Linked DNA regions of Homo sapiens: region 1 is linked to region 2. A link means that fine-mapping ties the variant in region 2 to the expression of a gene that starts in the linked region. Tissue or cell type: whole blood. Region 2 holds a variant in brackets; the other region holds the start of a gene. All regions are shown on one strand. Distances are between the middles of the regions.

Region 1 (5,148 bases), 490 kb after region 2:
CAGTGTGTCCATATGCAGATGCATAATGACAACCTGAATATTTACGTAAACAAAGAAAAAAATGACTCAAAGCAACAAAAACTGTGGGAAAATACCAACACTTAGGTTTCTCCATGGTAATACGTGGTGGATGGAGGAAGTGAGAGAATTGTAGCTAGTTCATAGTGCTGCGCTGGGTAGCCCTCTCCCTTTGATCCCCAGTTTCAACCACTGTACAAACAGTCAAAAATCAGTTTTGCTGGAATCTCCTTTTTACTCTGCTACTCTGGCTAAAGTCTTCCACTTACTTTTCTCACTTACAGGTACCTGAATATGTGCGTGCAAATGTAAAAGTCTTTAGATCAAAATAGGAACAAGGAAAGTTTATCCGTTTCAGTTTAGGATTTGGTGGGTGTGGCAACCCAGGAAGACCTGAGAAATAACCACTGTTTGGTTTGAATGATACATTTGACTGCCATTAAAATAGCATATAATTATAGCCTAAATGTAGACTTAATTTTTAACAGATTTATCTGAACTTTCAAAATTTGTACCGTTGGGTGTAACGATCTAAAACTATCTTATGGGAGATGTTACAGCAGTTTTCAAATCATTGAGCTAATATGAAATCTGGACTTTTTAAAACCCCTCTGATCTAACCTGGTTACGCAGTTAACATTGTATCTGGGAAAGGGGCTTTCATTTTACCTAGTCTCCAGAAGTCAATGGAATTATTCTGTAAATAGTTCAGGCTTTTGTCTAAATATGTGAAGACTGACAAGACTATCTCCGTGAGAATCCGCACCCCCCCACCCCAACCTCCCCCCTCCTTAATCATGTTTCACAAAGTAAATCTATAGACGTTCCTCCTGGGTTTTGGGAGATTCCCCATCCTAAACAAACCAGCTGGAGGAAAGGAAAGGAAGGAAGAAATAAACGCAACACAGAAGTTCTCCTCAGTTGACAAAAGGTCAAAAATCATTAACGTGTAAATGTTGCTTTTTCCATCCCAAAGCACCTTCTCACGTAGAGTCCAGGGACTAGGAGGACTCACAACGCAGCGATGGGCAGCCAGGCCCTGCAGGAGTGGGGACAGAGGGAACCCGGCCGGTGGCCCGACCCTGCAGGGAAGAAGGACGTGCGGCGAGAAGCATCGGATTCGGGGAGGGCCGGGACCTGGCCGAGGGTGACATTACCGAGCACTTCCTGGCACAGCGCTGGTCCCCTCCCCAAACGCGCTATATGTGGTTCTGTACGGGACTGCCTTTCCCAAAGACAGCCAAGGAAAAACTAAAGATCGACGGGGACACCCGCCTCCCTTCCTCGCCCCAACGGTTTCTCAGAGGCTGTGGGGACTTGGTGAGGGTAGGGGGTAGTTGTCCCAAATCAGCAGCTTCAGGATGTAAGGTATTACAGAAAACTTTGAAGTTTTGTTATCTGTAGCACAGGGACAGGGGTGGGACAATAGAGAAGGAATGTTTTCTTTTCAAAAGAAAACACAAACAAAACTTTATTTTTCTGGTCCGCGGCAGCCTGTCTGCTGAACGTTGACTTGCTTTCGCTTTGCAGCAGGCGACGGTCCCGGGCGCCACCTGCGCGTCGGTGGGAGGCTGGTCCACGCCCGGGTCCCCCGACGCCCACTGCAAAGGGCAGTGGGAATGACAGACTGTAAACCCTCTCGCCTGCGTCCCCTTCAAGCACCAGAAACCCAAGTTGGAACTAATTCTTTCTTTCGGAAGGTGCAACTCCCCTCCCGCGAGCTCCGCGGTGCCGGGCCGAGATTGCCGAGAGGAAGCGGCGCAGCGCTGCCGCCAAGGCTCCTCCTGTCGCCGGTGCGGCCGGGACTACCTGGCGGCGCGGCGCGTGCAGCGCGCAGAGTCCCGGGAGCCCACGCCTCCGCCTCCGCCCCCGCCCCCTCCGCCTCCCAGTCCACCTCGCCCGCCCGCCCTCTCGCCCGGCGGAGAGCACAGCCCACTCCCTCCCACCTGCGGCCGCCGGGCCGCCCTCCACCCACACCTCTGCCGCAGGCCGGACCCAGTGCGCCCGCCCGTCGGTCAGTCCAGGCCAGGCGCCCGGCGGGCCGCGCTCACGCAGTTGGCGCAGGAGGCCTTACGCTGGCGGCGCAGTGCCCGCCCCCTGCGCTCTCCCCGCCCCCTCCCTCCCTCGCAGGGGCCGAGCGAATGTAGCCCGCGAGAGAAAATGGCGGCGGCGGCGGGGAATCGCGCCTCGTCGTCGGGATTCCCGGGCGCCAGGGCTACGAGCCCTGAGGCAGGCGGCGGCGGAGGAGCCCTCAAGGCGAGCAGCGCGCCCGCGGCTGCCGCGGGACTGCTGCGGGAGGCGGGCAGCGGGGGCCGCGAGCGGGCGGACTGGCGGCGGCGGCAGCTGCGCAAAGTGCGGAGTGTGGAGCTGGACCAGCTGCCTGAGCAGCCGCTCTTCCTTGCCGCCTCACCGCCGGCCTCCTCGACTTCCCCGTCGCCGGAGCCCGCGGACGCAGCGGGGAGTGGGACCGGCTTCCAGCCTGTGGCGGTGCCGCCGCCCCACGGAGCCGCGAGCCGCGGCGGCGCCCACCTTACCGAGTCGGTGGCGGCGCCGGACAGCGGCGCCTCGAGTCCCGCAGCGGCCGAGCCCGGGGAGAAGCGGGCGCCCGCCGCCGAGCCGTCTCCTGCAGCGGCCCCCGCCGGGTGAGCAGCACGGCCGGGGTCGCGGCGGGGACTTGGAGAGCGGGCAGAGGGCAATGAATGAACCCCGGGCACCATGCACGGCGTCCCGGGGTTCAGCGCAGCGAGGCTACGCGCCGCTCGCCGGGACCTACGCCCCTGAGCACCCCCCGACCCCTTCGGAGTCGGGCGGCGCCCCGGACCCAGCCTGGGGGACCGGACGGGGACGTGCGGAAGAGTTTGTTATTGTTTGCAGACATGTGACAGGCGTGCGAGCCTCTCTGCGGGGAACCGTTGCGAAAAGGTGTAGGGGGCCACGGCTGGCTTTGTGGGACTCCTGGAATCGGGGCTCTCCGAGGAGCCCGGGGGCGGGGCACGGCCCTGCGGCGGCGCCCCCGGACGGGTGTCCCCGGGGCAAAGGCACTGGGGGGCGAGGCCCGAGCCTGAGGCGGGCGGTGGTCGGAAGAGGGGCGGGGTGGGTGAGAAGCCCGAGGTCGGGTGGGAGACTGAGAGGACCGAAGAGAAAGTAGCAGGTCCCAGCGGCCGTGACAGGCAGAGCCCCTCGGCCCGCCCGGGACTCGAGTCCCTAGGCAGATACCGCGGGCTGGGCCCGGACGCAGGCGGCGCGCCCCCAGCGCCGGCCGCAGGGCTCCAGGAGGACGGCTCGGTAACGCCTGTCAAAGCCGTGCGGCGGGAGGCTGCACACTCGCGGAGGCTTGCAGTCTTTTAGGAAGTGCGGTTTGTCTAATTGCAGCCCCCAAGGGGCTTTGAGTGTTCCTGGGAATGCGAACTGCACTGCTAAGTCACTTGAGTGACTTCTGTTTGGAGTTTGAATTTGGCCTTTGAAGTTTGCATTTGGCGGAGTGGTGTAAGAGCCAGGACCGGATGTGTCAGCCATTCAGTTTCAAAGCAGTGGTGACTGCTCCCCGCAGCCCCTCCGGCTTGGCCCGGGGACTGCGGCGCGGGTGCAGTGCTTCCTGCTCGGTGCCCTGGCGCGGGCCGCCCGCTGAATTCCAGGGGCCGCAGTGCGGTGGGCTTCGGCTCAGATGCGTCTTCTGGTGCATATGAAGTACAGTATGTGTAAGGTAATTTAGACCAGCGGTTTATTGGCCTCGCCCATTTTTGGCTACTGGAAATTTTTATGTTAAAGGAAATTCTTTTAAGTGTGACAGCTACATCCTTGTTTGTTTGTTTTTTAAAAACCTGATTAACGTATGCAAAGTACAAAGTCTTGATGGGTATTTTGAGTTGCTGGAAATGTTTTTGTGATAGTCCCTCGTGGCCCTGTAGAATTCCCTGACCTTTATTATGAGAAGAAAGCGTGTCATTTTGTGAGACGAATTTGACAGTAGGAGTCCTTGGTTTGGATTCATTATCTAAAGTGATCTGGCATTTTTTGTGCATTTGATTATTTGCTTAAAATCACGATCCATTTAGTATTTGGAAGTCCCCTTCCTCTCCCCAAGAACTAAAAAATATGCTTCGCACTGTACCATGGCACTACTGAGACCAAAGGAGATTTGTGACTGATACAGTTTTGTGTGCACTTGTACATGTAATTTATTCTTACAAGAGTTATGTACCTCTATAGTTTTCCCATTTCTGTGCAGATTGTATTAAAACTTAACTGGAATAATTCTTTGAAGGCAACTTCTACTTTAAATGAATTCCAGATAAAAATTTTTAACCCCAAATTTAAGAAATTGTATCTATTGAGACCTAACTTTTTGGATACAATAAATAATTTAGCAAACGTCAGCATTCTAGTACTCTTAATGAGCTGTGAATATAGTAGAAGAGCATCCACTGTAAAAATAATGTACTGAAATTGTTTAATGTTGTCTCTTGACACAAAATAAGAGGACTAAGGTGGAGGCAGATAGAATTTAGGGACTAAGTAATCCATGCTTAGTATTTGCGTTTTGTAACCGAGGTTTTTTCCCCTTTGCTTAAGGTGTAGATTATAATTGCACAGTATAAGAAAATAATGGGCTTGTAAGGATAATCTTTTTTAAAGAAATTATTTTTACGAGTCAGAATGCTGTTGGTTTATCCCAAATGTCATACGTAAAGATTTCATTTATAGTAAAATGTTGATTCCCTAACCTTATGAAATATAGTGAATTTTTTTTTCTTAACAATTGGGTTGAAATTCATTTGAATCTGTTCGTATAAAACTTTGTGGGGAAAGGGCTTGTATCTTATTTGAGTGTGTATATTTTGTATTGCATGTTGGTTATGCTACACTATTACTTACCATTTAAAGTTTTAGGAAAAAAAACCCTTAATTATAGCCAACTCAATAAAATATCAATTGAACTTTATGTTTTACTTTTTTTTGACAGTTAAGTTACATTCATACTTCCAAGAGGAAAATCTAAGATTTTGAAATATTTGAGAGTTCTGTGATCTTTTTTTTAATTTTAGAATTTCCTTCTGATCTTTGAATGTAGAAAATATACTTTGAATTAGAATTTATATAAATAAATAATACTCGTATTTAAATAGAAGA
Region 2 (5,148 bases):
CAGCTAGTTTGTGGTAATTTACTACTTCAGCCTCAAGAAACTAACACAGATATTATATGTTGGTATAGTATTTTTTTGGTTTCTAAAATGCTTTGGCATGCATACATGGCTTCATTTGTACCCCCTAATGGTTTAGTTTGGGGACCCAAATCCACCATGAAATGGCTGTGGGATTTTGTGCAAGTTGTCAACCTCTCTGGCCTCTATCTTTTCATCTGTAAAATGAGGCAGATAATGATGCTCGCACTGTGTCCCCCACCAAAGTACTGTGAAGATTAAATGGAAAGACACGCTCATGGACTTGCTATACTGACAAGTTGTATTTGATGCTGAGCTCTCTTTACCTATCCTTGGGTGACAGCTCCCTCACTGCCTGGAAGAGGATATGGGCACCATAAACACACCTAGAGGGAGTGTGGGCATGCTTCTGCCACCTCCTTCACCAGCATGGTGTGAGGCTGAGGGTGAGGGCTGGGTGTGGAGAGCCCAAGGCCACTGGGAGACAGGACAGGGAGGGAAGTTTAACAAGACTGTGCTTTGCCATGGGTTCAGTCATCTCATGAGCTGAGGCTTGGGGTCCCAAGGCTGACTTCTCAAGAAACATTTGGTCTAAGAGCAGAAAGGCGGAAAGGTCTGTCCCTATTAGCCCTTGTCCTCTGCATGATCAGAAGCCAGGGACCACCCGTGAAGGTGTGAGTAGAAGTTCATTTTCCTGCTGACCTTTCAATCCAGAGCCTTTGGGTGATGATGGCTCTGAAAGGTGGTAATTAGTGCTAATCGAGGTGATGGTTTTGTGAAGCTGACACCTATCCATTAGGAAATGGACTGAGGCCAAGGGACCAGCCACCCCACCAGGGGACAAAAAGCTAAAAAATCAATGCGTGGCCAAACTCTGCACAATTAGTGTGCTCCTCCAACCATGCTTTAGTGCACAAAGGGAACCCTTGCAAGGATAGAAAATGGGAGCTCCAAGGTTGAATGCCACCCTAAGCCTAGGAATAGAGACATAAACAATGACAAGGAAGAAGAGACACAGTGGGAGAGAGAAGAGGAATGGCGGGAGGGCAACTCGGTGTGCTTTTATGAGGGACAGAATACACTCGGGCAGCTGAGAATAGCACGCAGTAAGCCAAGGGCACTCACTCATCTACATTCAGTATAAAGCGATTTCCTGATTTTTCATGAGTTATGCCGCTTGCATTCTATCAAATTTGTTTCCTGTTCCTTTACTCCAGTGAGTCTCTGCAGGTACCCAGAATTCTGCTAAAATTTGGCATCATCAAGGAACAAAACCTTCACTCATGTTATTGCGATAACTTTATAACTTCTCTTTTCCTTATGCCCCATCCAAACCATCCTCTACACTTAAGCACAAGTGAATTTTTAAAAACACAAATCTGAAAGTGTAACTCCCCTGCCTAAACCTTCCACTGGCTTGCTATTGCTGTTGTACTTAAGATAAAACCTCAAGTCTGCCACATGGTCTGGCTGTTGCCGACCTCCCCAGGCACTCTGCGTGCCGCTCTCCCCACCACTCTCCGCCCTCCTTTCCACCCTCTGTTCTGGCTATGAGTCTTCAAGTAAGTCATTCATTCATGTACATATAGTATAAGTATGTATGTATGTAGACATATACGGAAGCAGATAACCAAGTTAGATATCCGTTTGACTAGAAAGCTCTTTCCCCTGTAATGTGTATGCCTAACTGCAATTTTTTGTTCTTCTGACACACACAGAAGCCTTCTCAGACTCTCTCCCTTTAATTATGTTCCCCTTATTAATTTTTCATAATTCTCATAACATTATTTTCACCTTAATAGCTCTTACTACAAATTATATGTGTGTGTATGATTCATGTGTATATATATATATTCATATTAAAAGATCAATTAGTGTTAGCTTTTAAACTAATGTAAGAGTCTTTAGAAACAGGCAAACAGATTAGAAACACTTTTCTTCCTTTTTTACTTCCTTCCTTTTCTTTTTTCCTTCTCTTTGCTTTGTTCTTTTCTCTTTTTTTTTTTAAATACAGGCATAAATATAGAAGGGAGGATCATATATATGTGTGTGTGTGTGTGTGTGTGTGTGTGTGTGTGTATATATATATATATATGTATATGAATCATAGTTTGCCTTTTTGCTCCTCCACTAAATTGTTAGCTCTAAGAAGTGGGACATGTATGCTTTGTTCTCTGCAGTAAATTCAGTTCCCCAACCCCAGATATTCTGGGATTTGATTGGTCAGGGGTGGGGTGGGGTCTGAGCACCGGCCTTTACTGAAAGTTCCTCACATGGTTCTCATGTACAGCCAAGTGGAGACCTGTTTATCTAACCCACCTTCATCATTTTAAGAAGGAAGGAGCTGAGGCCCAGAGAGGTCACCTGACTTGGTCAAGGTCTCTTGGAGCTGGCTATAAGCAGATTGAGACAAGGACTCAGTTCTTTTAGGGCCTGGTCTCTTTGCACACTATAATGTCCCTTCACTTAAGTTGGAGAAGCTTTATCACTGAGTAGAGAGAGGTTTCTTTCATATTTTTGCATTCTTGGAGGATGACTAACTCATGCTTGTTAGCCTGGGACTTTCCAGGTTTTAGCGCTTTAGGTCCTGTGGGTCTCAGGTAAAGGAAACAAAAATATGCCACTCCAAAATATACTTCTTTGGTATATTTTGATATGACTATTCACAGGAACTGCAAACCACA[G/A]GAAAAGCTTTGAAAAGCTGTCTTTTGGGGAGGCGGGGAGATTTGCATCTGTAGAGGAAATCTACATTAGTGAAATGAAGTTAACAGCAGACACAAACAGGGTTTTATAAGGCCTCCCTTATCCAGACCTAGGAAAGATTAAATCACAGGAAAGAGGGACTAAAGTTCTGACACTTCAAAAGGTCTGACAGATAAAGTTTTACCACATAAGAGCAGGATACTGTCTGTTCTTTCCGAGGGCTGCTATCCATGGGGCTCTATCTGCATAACAAGATAGCCTTTGCTCACCATGCCTTTTCTCCCCTCTTCCTCCAATAACTTGTCTTGCCATGCCCCAAGCCTCTATTCCTTGCTGTATGGTATATAACCTTCAGCCATCTGGCTTTCCATTGAGTCTCATACTTTGTGTGTGGCTTCTGTGTCCATATGCACATTAATAAAATTTGTACACTTTTTTTTCCCTGTGAATCTGCCTATTGTTAGTTTGTTTTATAGACTCAAATTATTTAAACTTCAGAAGCAAGAGCGAAGGAAATTCTCTTCATCCCTACCCAGGCAAGCTGAGATGGTTGACATCACTGTTTGCACAATCACTAAGTCCAGGTTAGGAAAGAGAAGCAATGCCATACGGTGATTGAAACCCAAATTCTAAAGCTAGACTCACCTAGGTTTGAACCGTGACTTGTCAATTAGATGATGACCTCAGGCAAGCTTCAGTTTCTTTATGTGTAAGAAGGGAGAAATAATGTTGTATGCCTTAAACAGTTGTTGTGAAGATGAAATTAGCTAATATTTGTAAAGCACTTAGCACAAAACATTGTTCATAGTAAAAGATCAATTATGGTTAGCTTTTAAATTGATGTAAGAGTCTTTAGAAATGGATAAAATGATAGATATACTTTTCTCCCTTTTTTCTTTCCTTCCTTTTTCTCTTTCCTTCTCTTTGTTCTTTTTTCTTTTTAAAATGCAGGTGTAAATATAGAAGGGAGATGTGTTTCTGAAGGTCTAGCAATTGCTAGAGCACTAAAATACCTCTTTTTTTTTTTTTTTAACCAGCGCTCATTACTGTCTGTCAACTCTAAATGCCACCCAGACATTTCTAGGTAGTGCAATTTTGCCCTGCCAAGTGAAAGCATTTCATGACGCTCAATCATTAGGCAGCTATTTAAAACAATTTTCTTTCAGAGCTTCTCCTTCCCTTGGGCATTCATGCTGAAGACTCTGTCAAAGTGCCTATTTCCTGGAATCTGGCTATAGCAGACTTCCCAGAGGTTGGTACACCAGACTAATCATTTTTCTAAGGCAGCACTGGAGCCCTCAGGATACCAGTTGAATCTGATCCACATGGTAGCTCTGGGAACACAAAATGCTAATGATGTGGAACTTAGGCCACTGGTATTTATTCTATTGTTGTTTGCTTATTTATTTATTATCCGTGCAGGCCAACCAAAAGATAAATTTGGGACCAACCTCAAACAAGGTAATTGGAGTGTTCATTCAGTAGTCTTAGCTTACTTGTACTGGCCATCTTTATGTCTTTAGTGAGTCCATATTAGAAATGACGGTGTCTTTTTAGAAGGATGAACTAAGCAGAAATGTAGAAAAATCAGAATTTTTGAGATTCAACTTTGAAGACAACCTCCTCCAATTCCTTGGAGAGTATTTTGCTCATTTAATACTTGGTTACATTGTAACATTTTGCAACCCACCAGGAAATCACTCTAACAGTAACTGCTCGTCAAACAGTGACAAGAGGATTTGGGGAAGGCAAACAGCTGCAGATTCAGATGTGGGAGGGAGGTGGGCAGATGATGGGGGAATGAATCTTGAGTGTCCACATGCCAGGGAGAGGCTCAGCCAGGAATGACACTCCAGGGTGACTGACAGTCAATGAAACTTGCCATTCTAATCAGCAATAAAAAGGAATGAGCTGTTGCTATACACACAACAGGGATGGATATTAAAATAAATGTGCTGAGAGAAAGAAGCCAGACCAAAAAAAAAAAATAGTGCCTACTGCCTTTCATTTATATACAATGCTAGAAAATGGAAACTATTTCACTGTGACAGAAAGCAGATTAGTAGTTGTCTGTGACTGCACTGCCACCATTCAACCTGTTTCTTAGGTCAGTAATTTGGCATCACCTTGAATCTTCCTTCTCGCTCTCGCTCCTGGTGCCCATTGACTCAGTAGACAGGCCCTAAAGAGTCTACCTTGTAAATTTTGTTCATAATCACCCTTTTCTCACTGTTTTCATGGTCACTTTCTTAGGTCCAATCTTCATACATCTTTTCTATTTCTTATTTGTAGTAGTCTCTAAATGGTTTCCTTCCCTCTATTTCCTGCCTATTCTAATTTATCCTTCATACTGTTTTCTGAATAACCATAAAATATTTTCTATCTTTAAATATAAAAAACAAAATTATAAAATATTTAAAAAATCAT

What was found. PIP is the estimated chance that this variant, and not a neighbour inherited with it, causes the effect.
Region 1: it holds the start of MAP3K1, and the variant in region 2 is fine-mapped to the expression of MAP3K1 in whole blood (INTERVAL, PIP 0.95).

What each region holds. Positions count from the first base shown.
Region 1 is chr5:56,813,396-56,818,543 of GRCh38, forward strand. MAP3K1 (mitogen-activated protein kinase kinase kinase 1) reads left to right here and starts at 2,154. Exons shown (of 20, transcript NM_005921.2): 1 at 2,154-2,660. The coding sequence starts at 2,179. RefSeq lists enhancers at 1,382-1,511, 2,963-3,786 and silencers at 1,872-2,641, 2,712-2,831, 3,012-3,251.
Region 2 is chr5:56,326,484-56,331,631 of GRCh38, forward strand. The region is part of intron 2 of LOC105378977 (a long non-coding RNA gene); the gene reads left to right. Among named protein-coding and RNA genes, the nearest start is that of ANKRD55, 96 kb to the left of the region's middle. The variant G/A (reference allele first, on the strand shown) is at 2,703.